2 separate regions of the Homo sapiens genome follow, and region 2 is linked to region 1. The links come from fine-mapping of genetic effects on gene expression. Tissue or cell type: gastroesophageal junction. Region 1 holds a variant in brackets; the other region holds the start of a gene. All regions are shown on one strand. Distances are between the middles of the regions.

What was found. PIP is the estimated chance that this variant, and not a neighbour inherited with it, causes the effect.
Region 2: PHF21B starts here. The variant in region 1 is fine-mapped to the expression of PHF21B in gastroesophageal junction (GTEx, PIP above 0.99).

What each region holds. Positions count from the first base shown.
Region 1 is chr22:44,931,513-44,939,512 of GRCh38, reverse strand. All of the region lies in intron 2 of PHF21B (PHD finger protein 21B), which reads left to right. Among named protein-coding and RNA genes, the nearest start is that of PHF21B, 74 kb to the left of the region's middle. RefSeq lists enhancers at 1-677, 6,775-7,276. The variant A/G (reference allele first, on the strand shown) is at 3,576.
Region 2 is chr22:45,005,094-45,013,093 of GRCh38, reverse strand. It overlaps PHF21B (PHD finger protein 21B), which reads left to right and starts at 3,089. Exons shown (of 13, transcript NM_138415.5): 1 at 3,089-3,598; 2 at 4,484-4,549. The coding sequence starts at 3,545. RefSeq lists an enhancer at 4,109-4,710.

The DNA.
Region 1 (8,000 bases):
CTGCCGCCCCCACCTGGGAAGCTCGTGGGAGGTCCAGTGGGAGAACCTTGGCATTTGCTCAGTGCGCAGTGCTTCCTGCATTTCATTGAAACTTCGCGGCAACTTTGCAAGGTGACAGGTAAGGCCTCAGGTGGGGACACCAGTCACACATGGCAGTCCTGGGGCAGAGCTCAGACGTGTTCTACCCACAGCCCTCTCTCCTTCTCCACTTACCTAACTGCACCCTGGAGCTTCAGAGTCTCCCCAGCCGTGGGTGAAGGAGCGTCTCCTGCCTCTATGGGTCGTGCAGCTTCCCGCAGTCCCTGGCTCATCACAGCAGCCTGCTTTTGGCTCAGCGGGAGTCTCCCTCTTCCCCAGCCCTGTCTGAGCCGATCTTGAGTTTTCTACTGGAGGCTCCTAAGGGGTCTTGGCAGAAGGCAGGAAGGGCCTGCGCTTGTGCAGCTGCTGCAGATGGTCGGTGCCGGCTCTGAGCTCACGCACTGGAGGCGCCGTGTGTGTGCAGCCCAGCAGCCTGGTGGAGGTTTTGTGAAGTCCTTGGTCTTTTTCAGTCCTCAACCAGCTCCTGCTTTTCTGCAGGTCCAGGTGCTATCAATGCATAGCAGAGAAGCGAGACACGAGTCCTTCCTTAGTGCCTTCCTGGTCATCAGTGAGGCCAGAGTGCATTTATTTCCATAATGGCGCATCCAGATTTCCTGCCCCATATTCAGTGCCACCCAGAACCTGTTCCTGATCCTGGTCCTGGGTCTCCTCCTAGAGATGGCACCTTATTTTTCAGGCCCTCATTGACATAACTATGAATATTGATTCCATTCCAGATGAAGCATCTTAGCCATGCAGCTGCCATAATGAGGGTCTATCAGTGCTGCCCCTGAGAGGGCATAGGTCTGTGCACCAGCTGGGCTCCTCTAGCTGCCCCCTTGGCCCTGCCTTTCTATGAGGGTTGGAGCTGCAGCTCTTGTCCTTCTTAAAATATATAGATTTTTTGGGCGCAGTGGCTCACGCCTGTAGTCCCAGCACTTTGGGAGGCCAAGGCAGGCGGACCACTTGAGATCAGGAGTTGATACCAGCCTGGCCAACATGGAGAAACCCTGTCTCTACTAAAAATACAAAAATCAACCATGCATGATGGCAGGTGCCTGTAATCCCAGCTACTCTGGAGGCTGAGGCATGAGAATGGCTTGAACCTGGGAGGCAGAGGTTGCAGTGAGCCAAGTCCGCGCCACTGCACTCCAGCCTGGGCAAGAGAGTGAGACTCTGTCTCAAAAAAACAAAAAACCAGGCATGGTGGCAGGCATCTGTAATCCCAGCTACTCGGGAGACTGAGGCATGAGAATGGCTTGAACCTGGGAGGTGGAGGTTGCAGTGAGCCGAGATCGAGGTACTACACTCCATCCTGGGTGACACAGCGAGACTCTGTCTCAAAAATAAAATACATAGATTTTTAAAATTTGAGATAAAATTTGCATACATTGAAATTCACAGATTTTGATTGTACTGCTGGATGAGTTTTGACAGTTGTGTACACCCAGGTAACTTATACTCCAAAATAGAGCATTTGCATCACCTCAGAAAATTCTGCACCTGCGCGATGCGTCCCGCAGAGCACCCGCTGTTGAGATTTCATCACCAGGGATTAGTTTTGCTGCTTCTTGAGCCTCATGTCCGGGGAGGCCTGCGGCCTTTGTGTGGGCTCCCTTCGTTCCACGCAGTGCTATGAGGCTCCTCCGTGTCATCGAGAGTATTCGTCATTCTTTCCCTGCGTGTTTCTCAGTGGCATCCCGTGGCGTGGGGGTCCCACAGTAGGTTTGCCCACTCACCAGTTGATGGACATTTGAGTTGTTTTCCCTTTTAAGAGATTATGAATAAAGCTGCTCCGAATTTTCATGCACATGATGTTTTGGGGATACAGGTTTTCATTTCTCTTGTGTAAACACCTAGGAGTGAAATTGCTGGGTCAGAGAGCACAGGTGTGTGTTTAGTTTTGTAAGAAATGACCCAACTATTTTTTGAAGTGTTCGCACTGCCTCCCACTCCTGCAGTGGTTTGTGAGAGACCCGGCTACTCCGTGATGGCCCAGCTCAGCCCACTTGGGTCTCCGTCCTCAGCGGCCTGCACCTGTGCTGAGTGTGCACCTGTGTTCACACCTGGTGGCCGCCTGGCTGTGATGTCTCCGTCTCTGCCCAGCCTTTGAGGCTCCTTTCTCCCTGGAACTTGGTCCTTCAAGGCTTTCTCGTAGTCACTGCTCTTGGGGATGAATAGGATTTTTATTTTGTCTGGGTGTGTTTTGATGTTACCATGGAGTTAAAGTTTTCTCATCCTTCCACTTCTTCAGCAGAAGCGAATGTTCAGCCGGGTGCGGTGGTTCATGCCTGTAATCCCAGCAGTTTGGGAGGCCGAGGCAGTTGGATCACTTGAGGTCAGGAGTTCGAGACCATCCTGGCCAACATGGTGAAACCTCACCTCTACTAAAAATACAAAAAAGTAGCTGGGTGTGGTGGCGGGCACCTGTAATCCCAGCTACTCAGGAGGCTGAGGCAGGACAATCCCGGGAGGTGGAGGTTGCAGTAAGCCGAAATTGCGCCATTGCACTCCAGCCTGGGCAATAAGAGTGAAACTCCATCTCAGGAAAAAAAAAAAAAAAAGAAAGAAAGTGGATGTCCACAACTTTTGTCTTAAATTACAAGTTTCCTGTAGAACAGCATTGTCTAATAAAAGCGCAGTGAGAGCCATATGTGTAAGTTTAAATCTTCTGGTAAGCCACAATAAAAAAAGTAAAAAGAAACAAGTGAAATTAACCTGGGGGGGTGAAAATCATTTTAATAATTATTTTATGTAATCCAATATGTCCAAGATATTATTTCAGCATGTACTTCATTTTTAAAATATTAATTAGATACTTTAATATCTTTTCATGAGTCTTCAAGGTCCCACTTGAAACCCGTCTCAGCTCAGGTTAGCCACTTGCAAGGGCTCACCAGTAACGGATGGCAGGAGGCGGTCCTGTCTCGAGTGGGCAGCGAGGCATCCAGGTGGGATGTCACACGCAGATCTGGAGCTCGAAGGAGAGGGGCTGGGGACAGGAGGCGACAGGGCTGCCGGTATACAGGGAGAGATGAGGGCCACAGGCCAGGAGCCAGCATTTCTGCTGGGCCAGAGAGACAGTCGGCCTGAGGCTGCGGCCTCTCTACAAGGAGCCGCCTTCAGAACCAGGCGGGACCTGCAGCTTCCCCTGTGCCGTCTCCACTGGACATGGCCAGGGAGGAGCACTCCAGGGCTCATGCAGGTGACAAGGCGGACCCCACAGCCCCGTTCCGTAGCTCTCCCGGGAGGGGGCTTGGCCCATTCATCCCAGGAGTGAAGACAGCAGCCGGGTTCTTCAGGACCCTCCAAAAAGATGTTCTCCACGGTATTTGGAGGACAAGGAATGTTTCCGCCTCTCCTAGTACATTTAAGTCAAAATCTAAAGCTTATTTTCAACACGTTATTTGCACAGTTAGAAGTGCTGTTCCTTCTAAAAATACCCCAGCAGAGAGAACAGAATGTGGTGTGTCTCCTGGGCAGCACGGCGTGGCGCC[A/G]GGCTCAGCTCTGGGCCCCAGCCCAGAGTGGGTTCGTGCGAGGTTGGAGCTTCCCCGAGGCGGGCAGAGACAGGGCAGAGCCACCCCTTCTTGAGCTGAACACTTTTCTAGTCTCGCTAACTCTGCTCCCCCTGTGAAGCTGGCATCAACATCTCCATCTTACAGATGAGGAAACTGAGGCTCAGGAGGTTAAACAGCTTGAAGTCACAGCTGCAGAAGGCCCTGTTGCCCTCTCCCATGAGACCTGCCAGTTTCTTGGGGCCTCCAAGGTGCCAGGTGTGAGCCATGTGCTTCTGTTTTTTTTTTGTTTGTTTGTTTGTTTTTGAGGCGGAGTCTTGCTCTGTCGCCCAGGCTAGAGTGCAGTGGCTCGATCTCGGCTCACTGCAAGCTCCACCTCCCGGGTTCACGCCATTCTCCTGCCTCAGCCTCCCGAGCAGCTGGGACTACAGGCGCCCGCCACCACGCCCGGCTAATTTTTTGTGTTTTTAGTAGAGACAGGGTTTCACCGTGTTAGCCAGGATGGTCTCGATCTCCTGACCTCGTGATCCGCCCGTCTCAGCCTCGCAAAGTGCTGGGATTACAGGCGTGAGCCACCGCGCCCGGCCATGTGCTTCTGTTTTAACTGTCAGGGCAAACCTGTGTGAACGTTAGTTCTCCCTGTTTACAGAGGAGGGAAACTGGGGCTCGGGGAGTTTGAGTAACTTGTTCAGGGTCTCATAACCCTTAGGTGGCAGGACTGGGGTTTGCTCTCAGATCTTTGGGCTATGTTCCTGAAGCTTCCAGTTAGACGCAGGTCAGAGGGAGTGTGTCGGGGACAGGGGTGACCACTGGACCGATTGCCGTGATCCTTTTTCTCTTGATGAAAGTGAATATACTGCATGAGCGTGTGTGTTTAACCAGCCACAGAGATATCAAAGGCCCTGGGAACTTCTTCTGGAGCAGAGCAGGGACTGTCCTCCTCTCCAAAGCCTAGCGCCACATGTCTTCTCTTCCCACGCTCCTGGAAGGTCTCAGCGAGGGCTGGGACACTTCCCAGGATGGCCTGGTGGGGCCTGCTGAGCTTTCGGTGGGTCTGGAGTTAAGCAGCCAGACCAGGAAAGAGTGAGGACCAGACAGGGACAGGCGATGTGGCCATCCCAGACACTTTGCAGAAGTGGGTGCAGTGGGGACTTTGGACGAATCAGAAGCTTCTGGCTGAGGGGACCTTTAGTTCTTCTAACCCCAGACTCAGGGGACTCCAGGACTCCCTACACCCTCCAGTTATGGGCCCACGTGATGTTACCCTTGGCTTGGAAACTCCTAGAGCCCCAGTGCCTACCTGCAGAGTCGAGACAGCTTAGCTTGATGGGTGTGGTCTGTCCATGTGCTGACACCTGCCCGTTCCCAGATGGACCTGACGCCCTGGCAGGGGAGGGCTCTGTTCCTGACCACGCCATCCTGGTATACCTCTAGACTGTCCCTCTCTGCCTGGGACGATGTTGTCCCTTCTTGGCCTGAAAAAAACTCCTGCTCGTGGAAGTCCCTTCTGTTGGATGTGGACGTCTGTAAGGAGTCTCATTCATGTTTGTTGTGATGATGTCATCGCTCCTCTATGTGCCTGTCTTGTCTTAGGTCGCGTGCGGTGATGGGTGGCTGGGTACCAGGCTGTTCTAACATCCTCACCGCCACGCTCCAGGACAGGGGAAGCAGGTGGGTGAGGTGCAGGTGAGGGCCAGCGGCACCTGAGAGTCAGGAGGAAGTGGCCGATGGGACTCTGAGCCCCGTGCAAAGGCCCCCTGCCTTGTGGCAGCCACCAGGACCACCCACTGGGTCAGCAGTCCCCAGGAGGGGACGGGCTGCCATGCCCACGTCAGAGGAGAGGAAGCAGAGGTCAAGAAGGGCCCCTCTGGTCTTGTGGTTACACATGCCATATATTTTCTTGTTAGTTTTCACCAGGAAGTCCCTCAAACTGCGTGGAAATGCAGCGACTGCTGAGCATGGCAGGATCTCAGTAAATAGACAAGGACGCTTCACGAGTCCATGGCCTGTCTCCTGGGGACTGCCAGAGCCTTCCCTGTGGTTGTGTAAATCATTTGTATTCAGTTACTGTGCCCGGAAAACCCTTCCCTCGCGGTGCAGGGTACACACAGATTCATTCCTCACTTGCTTGGGGCAGTCATGTGTCTGTCTCTCTGTCTCTGTCTCTCTGTCTGTCTGTCTGTCTCTCTCTCTCTCTCTCTCTTATCTGCACGAAGAGCTCCAGATACTCGTCTCCTGGAATGGTGGAGATGAACTAGGCATGGAGGTGCGTGACCAACCTCAGACGGCTCCCCCACCCCACTTAACGCTTACCCCTTCTATGTAGCCGAGACCTTCCCGTGCACTTCCGTTGAGTTGCGGGCAGCACGTTCTGATGCTCACTTCTGGTCTGTTTCCCCAGATCGCGGGCAGAACCTCTCATCTGTGCACAAGGGACCCAGCACGGGGTAGGTGTGCAGTGAACACTTGCTGAGTTTAGTCAGTGCCAATGGCTTCAGGAAATAGAAGAGGCCGAGCGCAGTGGCTCACGCCTGTAATCCCATCACTTTCGGAGGCCGAGGCGGACGGATCCCCTGATGGCGGGAGTTCGAGACCAGCCTGACCAACATGGAGAAACCCTGTCTCTACCAAAAATACAAAATTAGCCAGGCGTGGTGGCACATGCCTGTAATCCCAGCTACTTGGGAGGCTGAGGCAGGAGAATCGCTTGAACCCAGGAGGCAGAAGTTGCAGCAAGCCGAGATGTGCCAGTGCACTCCAGCCTGGGTGACAGAGTGAGACTCCATCTCAAAAAAAAAAAAAAAGAAATAGAAGAGACCTGAAGCTGTTTCCACAGCGGGGCGGGAGCATTTGCCAATCCAACCAGAAGTCTGTCCCCGAGGACAGGACCTGCTCTCCTTGGCGAGTGCCTTGTTAGAATGCGGGGCCCCCTTTGAGGGGCTTGTGGGCACCTCTAGGGTTGCTGGAATGTTCTGTATCTTGGTCTGCACGGTGGTTACTTGGGTGTAGATGTTTGTCAAATCCAGTGAGCTGTGGCCTAAGCTCTGTGCCATTCACTGGAAGTAAAATGGGCCCTTCCTCTGGAGGGCCAGGGGTTGGGGATGGGGTGACTGGGGTCCACCCACCCTTGCATCCCTGCCCACACCAAGGCTAGCTCCAGGAGGCCTCTGCAGAGAGAGGAGCACCTGCTGGGCCGTCATCGGCATTCCGTGGTGCAGGTGCGGAGGTGCACCCTCAGATTCCAGGCCGTCATCAGCGTTCCGTGGTGCACCCTCAGTTAGATCCCAGGCCGTCGGAGGTGGGGATGATGAAGCTGAGGCCAGCGGGACTGTGTGAACCCATCTTTTGTGGGAATTAGATCTTCTCAATGACCGTCTATTTTACAGAGGTCTGGAGGTCAGTGGGGACAGGCAGCTAGAGGCACTACCATCGATTGGATTTTGCTGCTACTGTGATTTGTTTGGAAGACGTGTGCCTGGTGGTGGCGGCCACTCCAGATCCAAGGGCCCAGGTTGGGGGTTCAGGGCCCCCTGGCTAGGAAGGAATAAGGACACTCTGATAGTGGGTGAGCAGTCTGTGACACAGGGACGAGTAAGTACCAACCACTTGTGTTTTTCCTCTTACCTCAGGCTCAAGAGAGGCAGCACCTCTCCTCTCTGGGGTGGGGCATTCGCCCCCCAATCTGCCCTCTCCTGGCAGCCCTTACAGCAAGCCCATGGCCCCTCTTAAAGAACAGATTTTGCTGCATCTTTAGGAAACAGATGAGTAGAGGGAAAACTAACCTCCGGGTCTTCCCAGTGGAGGTTCGAGGCCTCCAGCCTCTGCCCCGGGTCCTCTGTTGAGTGACACGGCCTCACCCACCCTCTCCAAGGCCTCAAGGCTGCGTCTTTCCCTGTGCCCTGCCTTCCTTCCTTCCTGGGGGACGCAGCTTAGAGATGTCCCTCCTGTCCAGCCCCTCCCTGGATTTTGGACATTCCCAGCAGGCTGCTGGCTGTGCCAGTCCTTCTCTGAGAGCAGGGCCCACGGTGGGAGGGATTGCACAGGAGGCTCCTGGTGGGCTCCTGGGCCCCTGGAGTCCAGATCTCTTCCAGATGGTATGTTTTCCAGTTGAGTAGATGCAGAAGTGGCCGTTTTAGCTGGTCTCACGGACACCCTCCACGGCAGAACTAGCGTGACCTCAGAGGCTGCCACTTCCGTGCAGAAGTTTCCAGAATACACCTCTACACATGCACCTGTGGTCACGGGGGACCTCACAACCATTTTTTGACACCCCCCCCCCAAGATCACAACCCCCAATCCTTAGTTCATGATGCCATTCAGAGTGTGTGTTTTTTTGCTAAATAGCATAAAATTACATCCTTTCAACTTAAACAAACTGCTCTGCAACGCCGAGGGCCGCTGAACGGG
Region 2 (8,000 bases), 74 kb before region 1:
CTCCCCCTCCCCAATCTCAAGAGAGGTGCCTCTCTCACTAACCATGGCCCCCATCTCCTGACTGGCCCCCACATCCAGTTTCCACCATATCCTTCACATTACCACCAGGTCATCTCTGAGCAGAGGCCTGGTCATGTCTCATACCCCTGTGCGGAAACCTTGGGCAGGTCCCCTTGTCCACATAACACATTTAAAACCCCAGCATGGTGTTGTAGGACCTTGGGGTCTGGTCCTGCCATCTTTTCTGTCCTGTTTTTCTCCTCCAGTGAGCACTGCAGGCCCCCTGAGATCCCTCCTGCAGCCTACCCCAGGCCCATGGCTTATGCCTGCTCTTCTCTGGAAGCAAATCCATCCTCAGCCACTGGCCCAGATCTCCCAGCCCTGACGGGGAAGAGGCTACACATCTATCCAGGTCTCTGCTGCCTGAGTCTGTGGGTCCAATTCCAGGCAACAGGGCTTGTAAGTAACCTAATGCCCTGAGCCTCAGTCCTCTAACCTGTAAAATAGGGATACCAGACCTACCCCCGGAACTCAACGAGGGCAGGAGACAACAGGTATGAAGAGTGCCATGTGGATGGTAAAACTCAGAACAAACAGTATTACTACATTCTCAAGGCTCTGCTCAAGTTACTTCTTGACAAGCCCCTCTCAGACCACCCCTCTCAGAATTAACCCTTCCTTTGCCTGTCAGTCATTTTTCTCGCTCTGTGTTTAACACAGGGGCCCTGTGTCTCTGCTGTCTCTGTCGGATCTTTTGCTACACCATGCACTTAAACAGTGCTTTAAGATTCCACAGTCGGAGCCACTATCCTCTGGCCAGCATCAGCCTGAGACTGTGTGGACTGAAGATGACCTGAATATCCTCTGTTGATTTAATTACCCTACGTGGCTGATAAAATTACTCTGAATTTTTACCAAGAAGCCAGTGGCATTTACAGAGATTACAGTAGGAATCCTCTTTCTGCACACTTTCTCTCTGGCTCTCCAAGCATGGGTCTCCAGGGCAGTCCACTTTCCTGGGCTGGTGTTCAGCCCAGCAAAAGCACTAAGGAGGGAGGCCACCACCCTGACCCGGGCTAAACCCAGAAGTGGGAGGAGTGGGTACCTATTGGGGCACCCTGAGTCAGCCTCTTTGTTTTGCATTTGAGGAACCTTGCTTCTCCCTGCTTGGGGCAAAACCAAAGGAATCACGACCACTTCAAACACGGGCTAGTTTTGCATCCACATTAACCAGTGTTGGCTTATGGTGTGACTGTGGTCCCAGCTACTTGGGAGGCTGAGGTGGGAGGATTGCTTGAGCAGGTGAGGTGGAGGCAGTGGTGAGCTATGATTTCACCACTGCACATTAGCCTGCACGACAGAATGAGACTCACACAGTAAGTAACTATGCAAAAAACAGAGGGGCATGTATATGATCCTTACCGTAACCCACATATTTAACCTACGTAATTAAATCAACAGAGGTTATTCAGGTCATCTTCGGCCCACACAGATTCAGGCAGATGCTGGCCGGAGGGTAGTGGCTCCTCCTGTTGAGTCTTTTCTGTTTGTTTGTTTGTTTTTTCTGAGACAGAGTCTTGCTCTGTTGCCCAGACTGGAGTGCTGTGGTGCAATCTCGGCTCACTGCAACCTCTGCCTCCTGGGTTGAAGCAACTCTCCTGCCTCAGCCTCCCGAGTAGCTGGGATTACAGGCTTGCGCCACCATGCCTAATTTTTTGTATTTTTAGTCGAGACCATGTTGGGCAGGCTGGTCTCGAACTCCTGACCTCGTGATCTGCCCACTTCGGCCTCCCAAAGTACTGGGATTACAGGTGTGAGCCACCGCCCCCGGCCGGCCTCCTATGGAGTCTTAAAGCGCTGTTTGCAAGTTTCTGTTAACTAATTTGGGTTAAAGTAAGGGTCATCTACATGCCCCTCTGCTTTTTGCATAGTTACTCATATCCTAAGTCTCACTCTGTCGTGCTCTGAAGGCGAGGTGCTGGGTTGTGGGATGAGGGGCCATCTGTGTTTGGGGGTCCCAAACACGTAATTTATTACAAATTCCCTAACAGAGAGCAGAACAACACTGGGGTCCTCACTTGAAAAAAAAAAAAAAAAGAAAAGAAAGAAAAGGGGGAATTCCAATAACTTCTGCCAACAAAAGCAATGTGTGACCTGTTGGCATATGTTGAAAGGGACATTTGCTGATGGTGCTTGCTTGGGTATTTTTTGTGCTGCCGGAGAGGAATCTGAAGTTAAAACGACTTAACAGCTTAAACGTTTACTTTGACATATGATTGCACCCTTTCTCCCCAGCGTGTTTCAAACGTGCCAGTTTGCTGCCAACAGGGCACCCGGCACTCCGACCTGAATGAAGATGGCAGCCCCGAGGTGGTGACAGTGACTCTGGGACATTAACCTCCTGGCTGCGCGGCTGGGGGTTCTGAAACGCGACCTCCGCAGCTGTAATTATAATTGTTTTAGGTCGCATTGACCGGGCCTGTTTACGACTCTTAACAAGAGTCTTAAAATGTCCAGTGACATCTGTTGAGAGTTTAATCGTGTAAAAAAAAATCATTAAAGGAAGAGCCAAGAGATCAATTTTCTTGCTGTTTAAACAACACGGAGGCCATCAGGCGGCGGGGGAATGTGGCGACGCGACTAATTTAATCCCCCAAGTCGCGGCGCTGGTATGGACAGGAGGGGACGGAAGAATTTAAATAAAATATCAGAGGGAGGCGGAGGAGGGGGGAAAGGAGGGAGCCGAGGACCAGGGTGAGGAGAAATGGAAACACGGACTCGCAGCCTCCCAGCGGAAAGTGTCCTGATCCCGGCGTTACACGGCGCAGGGGGTGGGGGCGCCGCGTTCCCCGGGTTGGCCCGGGGACGGAGAGGATGACTCCGCAGTCGTCCTCTCCGAGCGCCCGGCCCGAGCAGTCCCCGGAGCCGGCGACCGTGCGTCCCCGTCCACCGCCACTTTTGTTCTCCGCTCGGGGTGCCGGGCCGCGGCGGGGCGGCAGTGCGCAGGCGCGGGCGGGGCGGGGGCGGGGCGCGGCGGGCTGAGGGTCCCGGCACCGCCCCCCGCCGCCCCGGCCCGCTCCATCCGGGCACTGCCGAATTAGCATCGTGCCGAGGCACAACTTTGCCGAGGCCCAACGAGATCCAGGCGCGCGCGCCGGAGGAAATATAGTCCCTGCCCGCGGGAGGCTCGCGCGGGAGGAGGCGGCGGCGGCGGCGGCTGGGCGGGCGCGCGCGGGGCTGCGCGGGGCTCCCGGCGCCGGGGGGGCCATGCTCCGGGCCGCGCCGGCAGCCCGGGGACCCGGCGCAACTTGCCGGGCAGCCTGAGGAGTTGGGGCAGCCGAGGGCTCGGCGCCGCGGCGCCCGGAAGCCTGTCTTCCCCTTCGCCAGCCCCCTTCCCTTTCGGCCGTGGGGGAGGGGGCTCGTGTCCCCCCCAACCCAGCCCGGAGGCCGCGTCCGCCCGCGCCCGCTCTGGCCCCCGCGGAGCCGCGCAACTTCCCGGGAGCCCGGGCCAAAGTGAGCGCAAAGTGCTGCCCAAGTTGCCGGGATGGAGCTGCAGAGCCGGCCCGAGGCGCTCGCCGTGGAACTCGCGCGCCACCAGGTAGGTGGCCGGGGGCCGGGCCCGGGGCCGGGGAGTGTGTTGCGGGGTGAGGGGGTCGGGGGACCCGAGCCCAGCATCCTCTCTTCCGGGTCTCTGGGTCTTCCAGGCTGGAGCCTGCCCGGGGGCGGGGGGCGAGGGAGTGAGCACACGCGCGGACCCCCTTCTGGGCTCCCCTCCGCCTGCCCCTGGCGCTGTCCTGCACAGTTTGCGGGATCGAGGACGCGTGGGACCCGAGCCTGGAGTCTTCTCTTAAGCGATGTAGGGTCTGCATGACTGGGAGGGTGCCTGGAGGGGGCCCCTTCGTGAGCCGGTCCCGGGGAGGGGAGTGCGAATAGGCCCCCTTCCGGCCTCCCCTCGGGCCCCCGCGCCCCGGGCGAACCTGCCCGGTGTGCAGAAGTAGTTTTGGCGATCGCTGCTGGCGAGCGGCGGCGTGGCGGCCGGAGCCTGAGCGGGGCTCGGCGTGCGCGTGTGTGTGTTGGGGAGATTAGGACGCGACTTGAATATTTATGAGCTTTGCTCGACACGGACTCGCCGTGTTTACTTGGCTCTTTGTTCCTCCCCCCTCCCCCGGCACACACTCACACTCACACTCACTCGCACACGCACCCCGGCCTGCAAACTTGCACGGCTCGGGGCGCGCCGCCGGGTGGCCTCGGCCCCCGCCCCGCCCCGCGAGCTGCCCCGATGAGGCGGCAGCCACAGGTAAGCGGCCCCGCGCGGCACTGCCCGGCCGCCGCGCGTGCAGGACGCGGCCCGGGAAACTTGGGGTGCGCTGCGGCCGGCCCCGCCCGTGGGGCTCCGGGCGGGGGGTGCCGCGGCCCGCGGTGCTGGGGTGCACCTGACCCCGGGTGGCCTGCCTGAGCCCGCTCCTCCGTGTTTCCGCAGAACGGCGACCTCAAGAAGCAGCTCCACGAAAGGCAGCCGCGGATCGCCGCGCTCAGCGACAAACAAGTAAGCGATGGGATCGCGGCCCCCCCTGGGATGGGGCGGGAGGGTGGCTGGGCACTTTGGCGGCGCCCTAAAAAGTGCCAGCCTGGGCGACGCACGCTCAGACTCCCAGAGGGGTCTGTCTCCAGTTCTCAAAGTTCCCCACCCCTCCCCTTTCCTGGAAAGAAAGAGCCGGGTTCTCGGAGGCGGCAGGGAGAGCCGGGCCCTGCGGGGGCCGAAGAGAGGAGCTCACTTAAAAGGCAGCGCGCGGCCCGGCGTCCATTTTGAGGTGGTGGACATGTTTTTGGAACGTGGCGATTTCTCCCGGCTCGGAGTCCCCCGCTTTGCGCTGAGGCGGCCATGGGGGCGGAGGGGGGCGGCCGTGGGGGCCTGGACACCAAACTCGTTGGAAGCGATTTCTGGGTTCCGTGGCAAACCTCGTTTTGAAATCGTTCCTCGAGGCTCCCTCCCCCCCACCACCTTCCACTTCCCTAGCTTCACTTTTTATTCTTGGAACCTGACGCCAGCTCCCGGGGAACAAAAGAAACGCGCCCCCGGGACTCCCCAGTTCTGCTCCAACTTTGGGCTCCGGGCGTTAGGTGTAGTTGGGGACACCTGAGAAGCTCCCACGCGTCGGAGGCGCGACCGCTCCCCCCCCTCCGGGCCCCCTCCGGGGAGGAAAAGTTGTCCATTGTGACTTAGTTGCGCTGAGCTCAGCGCTCGGGGTTTCAGCACCACGAACAGATGCCGCCGCCAGAGCCCGGCCGGCCGCGCGCCCCCGCCCCCTGGCTCCCGCCCCTCCTCCGCTGCCCCTCCCCCGCCGCGCCCCCTCCCCGCACTCGCACACCCGCCCCTTCCCCGCGCTCGCACACCCGCCCCTTCCCCGCGCAGCCCCGAGCCGAGAACTTTGAGCGGCGCAGCCAATGGCGTGCTGGGGGCACCGCTGTGGCGGGCACGGGGGCGGCGGCGCCCCTCCCTCCCTCCGCTGCCCCCTCCCTCCCTCCTTCGCGCCCCGCCCCCGCCCGCGCCGCGCCCCCGGCCATCGATCGCGTTTCCTTCGGAATGCCGGCCGCAGCCGCCAGCGCCAAACTTGGACAGCTCCGGGCCCGCCCCCGCGCGCCCCCGCCCGGGCCTGCCCCCGCGCTCCCACCCCAGCCCGGGCCGCCGGATCGGACGCCCCCTCCCCCGGGGGATTTTCTGGCGTAGGGGAGAGACGTGGACGAGGTTGGGGCGGCTGCCGGTGACCCTGGCGAGAGAGAATTCGGAGGCCGGGCGTTCGTGTCGAGTCTTTAAAGTTAAAAAGTGATGGGAGGGGGCGTGCGCGAGTGGCGGGTTTTGGGGGGGGCCGGGCTTGCTGAAAGGAAGATGGCAGTGCCGCGGCCCGCGCCTGGTCTGGGCCGCCGGGCTGGACCGAAGGCTTGGGACAAATGCGCTAACCCTTTTCAGTTGGTGCCGCGGCCCCCCCGCCCCCGGCCGCGCGCCCCCGTCCGGGAGTGGAAGCTTCCATTCCCGCCGGAGGGGGGCCCGGCGCGCGGCCCCGGCGAAGTCGGGGAGTTGGCGGGGGGAGGGGACCCAGGCCCTGCATTACCATTTTGATTGCTTTGATGCCATTTTTGGAGGGGGAGGGGTCGGAAGACCCTTTTCCGCAGAGCACAAAGCTGTTTAATCACTGCGTAGAATCAAATCAGATACTTTCTTTAAAAAAAAAAAAAAATCTGCCACCAGATCTGGTCCAGTGTGATAGCTGAGGGTTACTAAGCCCTTTTTTCACTGGGTAAAACGGCAAGTTGTTGACTCGTACGCTCCTAGAAGATTTAAAAGAGAGAGAGAAGAAGAAAAAATCCAATAACCTAGGAGCTTTTCTTGGAACAATGTCTCTTTATGTTTCTGCTTGGCAGTAGTTTTACTATTTGGAATGACTCTTCTGAGCTTGGGTTTGATCATTTCTTCTGTATTGTAGCAACTATTTCGAGGCTGTTTAAATTTTTATGATGATAGTAAATGAGTCGCTATTTATTATCTGTCATGCCGGAATTTAGATAAGCCGAAAGAAACATTTGAAAATCCTGTTTGAAGGTTGCGGCAGCTTCGGGAAGGAGCTCTCCGACTCCGGGCTGCCTTTGCCTTTAAATTTGAACTCCGGGAAGGAGGCTTGCTTGCGAACTGACCTCCATCTTTTTGTGTGTGTGAGTGTGTGTTTAAAAAGAAAGAAAGCAAGGAAAACTTTTTTTCTCCGGCCTTTTAGAAATGTTTCCCTTTTAAATGACTAAACAACATTGGGTAAGCAGCCAGGATTTGGCCTGGCCATTGGAACTTGTGTTTTTAACTGCGAGGGTGTTGTTTTTCCATTTCCCTTTGTGGCATTTTATATAACAAGGGCTCATAAAAGAGGGAGGGGAGGGGGCTGCGGCCGTGGTTCAGCATGCTAATAAAGCCGCCTTGTCTTTCCCAGGCTCTGCGTTGAAATCTTTCAGAGGTCACCTATGAAATGAGTTAGGGAGACTTAACATTTACTCCCCTCTCCCTCTCCTTGGGAGAGTTTGGTGGTGATTGGCAGCTTAGCTGGGGAAAGGTCGATGAACAAGCCTTTGGAGGTGACTCTGGGCTGAACTAGGGTTTTGAAGAGGCCTCTACTTGGTCACCCCAGAGCCTGCCCAGAAGGAGCCGAAATGGGGGAGTGGAGGTGAAAAGGCAAGTGTGTCACAGTTTGTTTATTTAACTCAACAGAAAATTAAAGGTAGAATTCTTTTAGAGAGTCGCTTAGGGAAACGCTTATACCATCTCCACCTCCAGAGATGTTTTCTGTGCTGGAACATCGGATATAAAGGTTAAGTTTCAATTAAAAGTGCACATGTGGATGATGAACTAGATAGTAAAATGAACAGATGACCCCGTTATCCAGGTCTGTTAGCAGTACGCCAGCAGCGGAATCCTGTCTTTCAGGGCCCAACCATGAATTTCTCATTCATGCCCTTAGCGCGATGTTTTTCTCAGTTACTTTAAGAAACATGGACAAGTGTGTAAAGGTGTTTAAAGGACTCATAGTGGTAGATAGCTTATTGGTCAGGGTAGATAGAGATATGTTTTCTGTGTAACTGTCTAGTTTTTGTCCTACCATTCGGAGACTAGGGAATTAACAGGAAGTGAGTTTACATAGGACCTTGCTATTTGAAAATGAAGTTCATATTTTCCACTAAAAAAAAAAATGAGGCATAGGATAGTTGGTCAGAGCTGATGAGTTGTGGCCAGGCCCAGGCCAGCTAAGCTGCCTTCCCAGGTGTGGCTGCACTTTGCTGCTGGGCTGTGATTCAGATAGTGGAGGGCCCTCTTCTTTAACAAGATATGATGTGTGAAGACTCCATTAGCTGCTCCAGTGGTTTACACCATGAGATTGCAGCACATGCAGGGGCAGTAACATTTTTATCTAAATTGTCAAGCAACAAGCCCTTCTGTGTAAGTTAAAGACCCAGCGTAA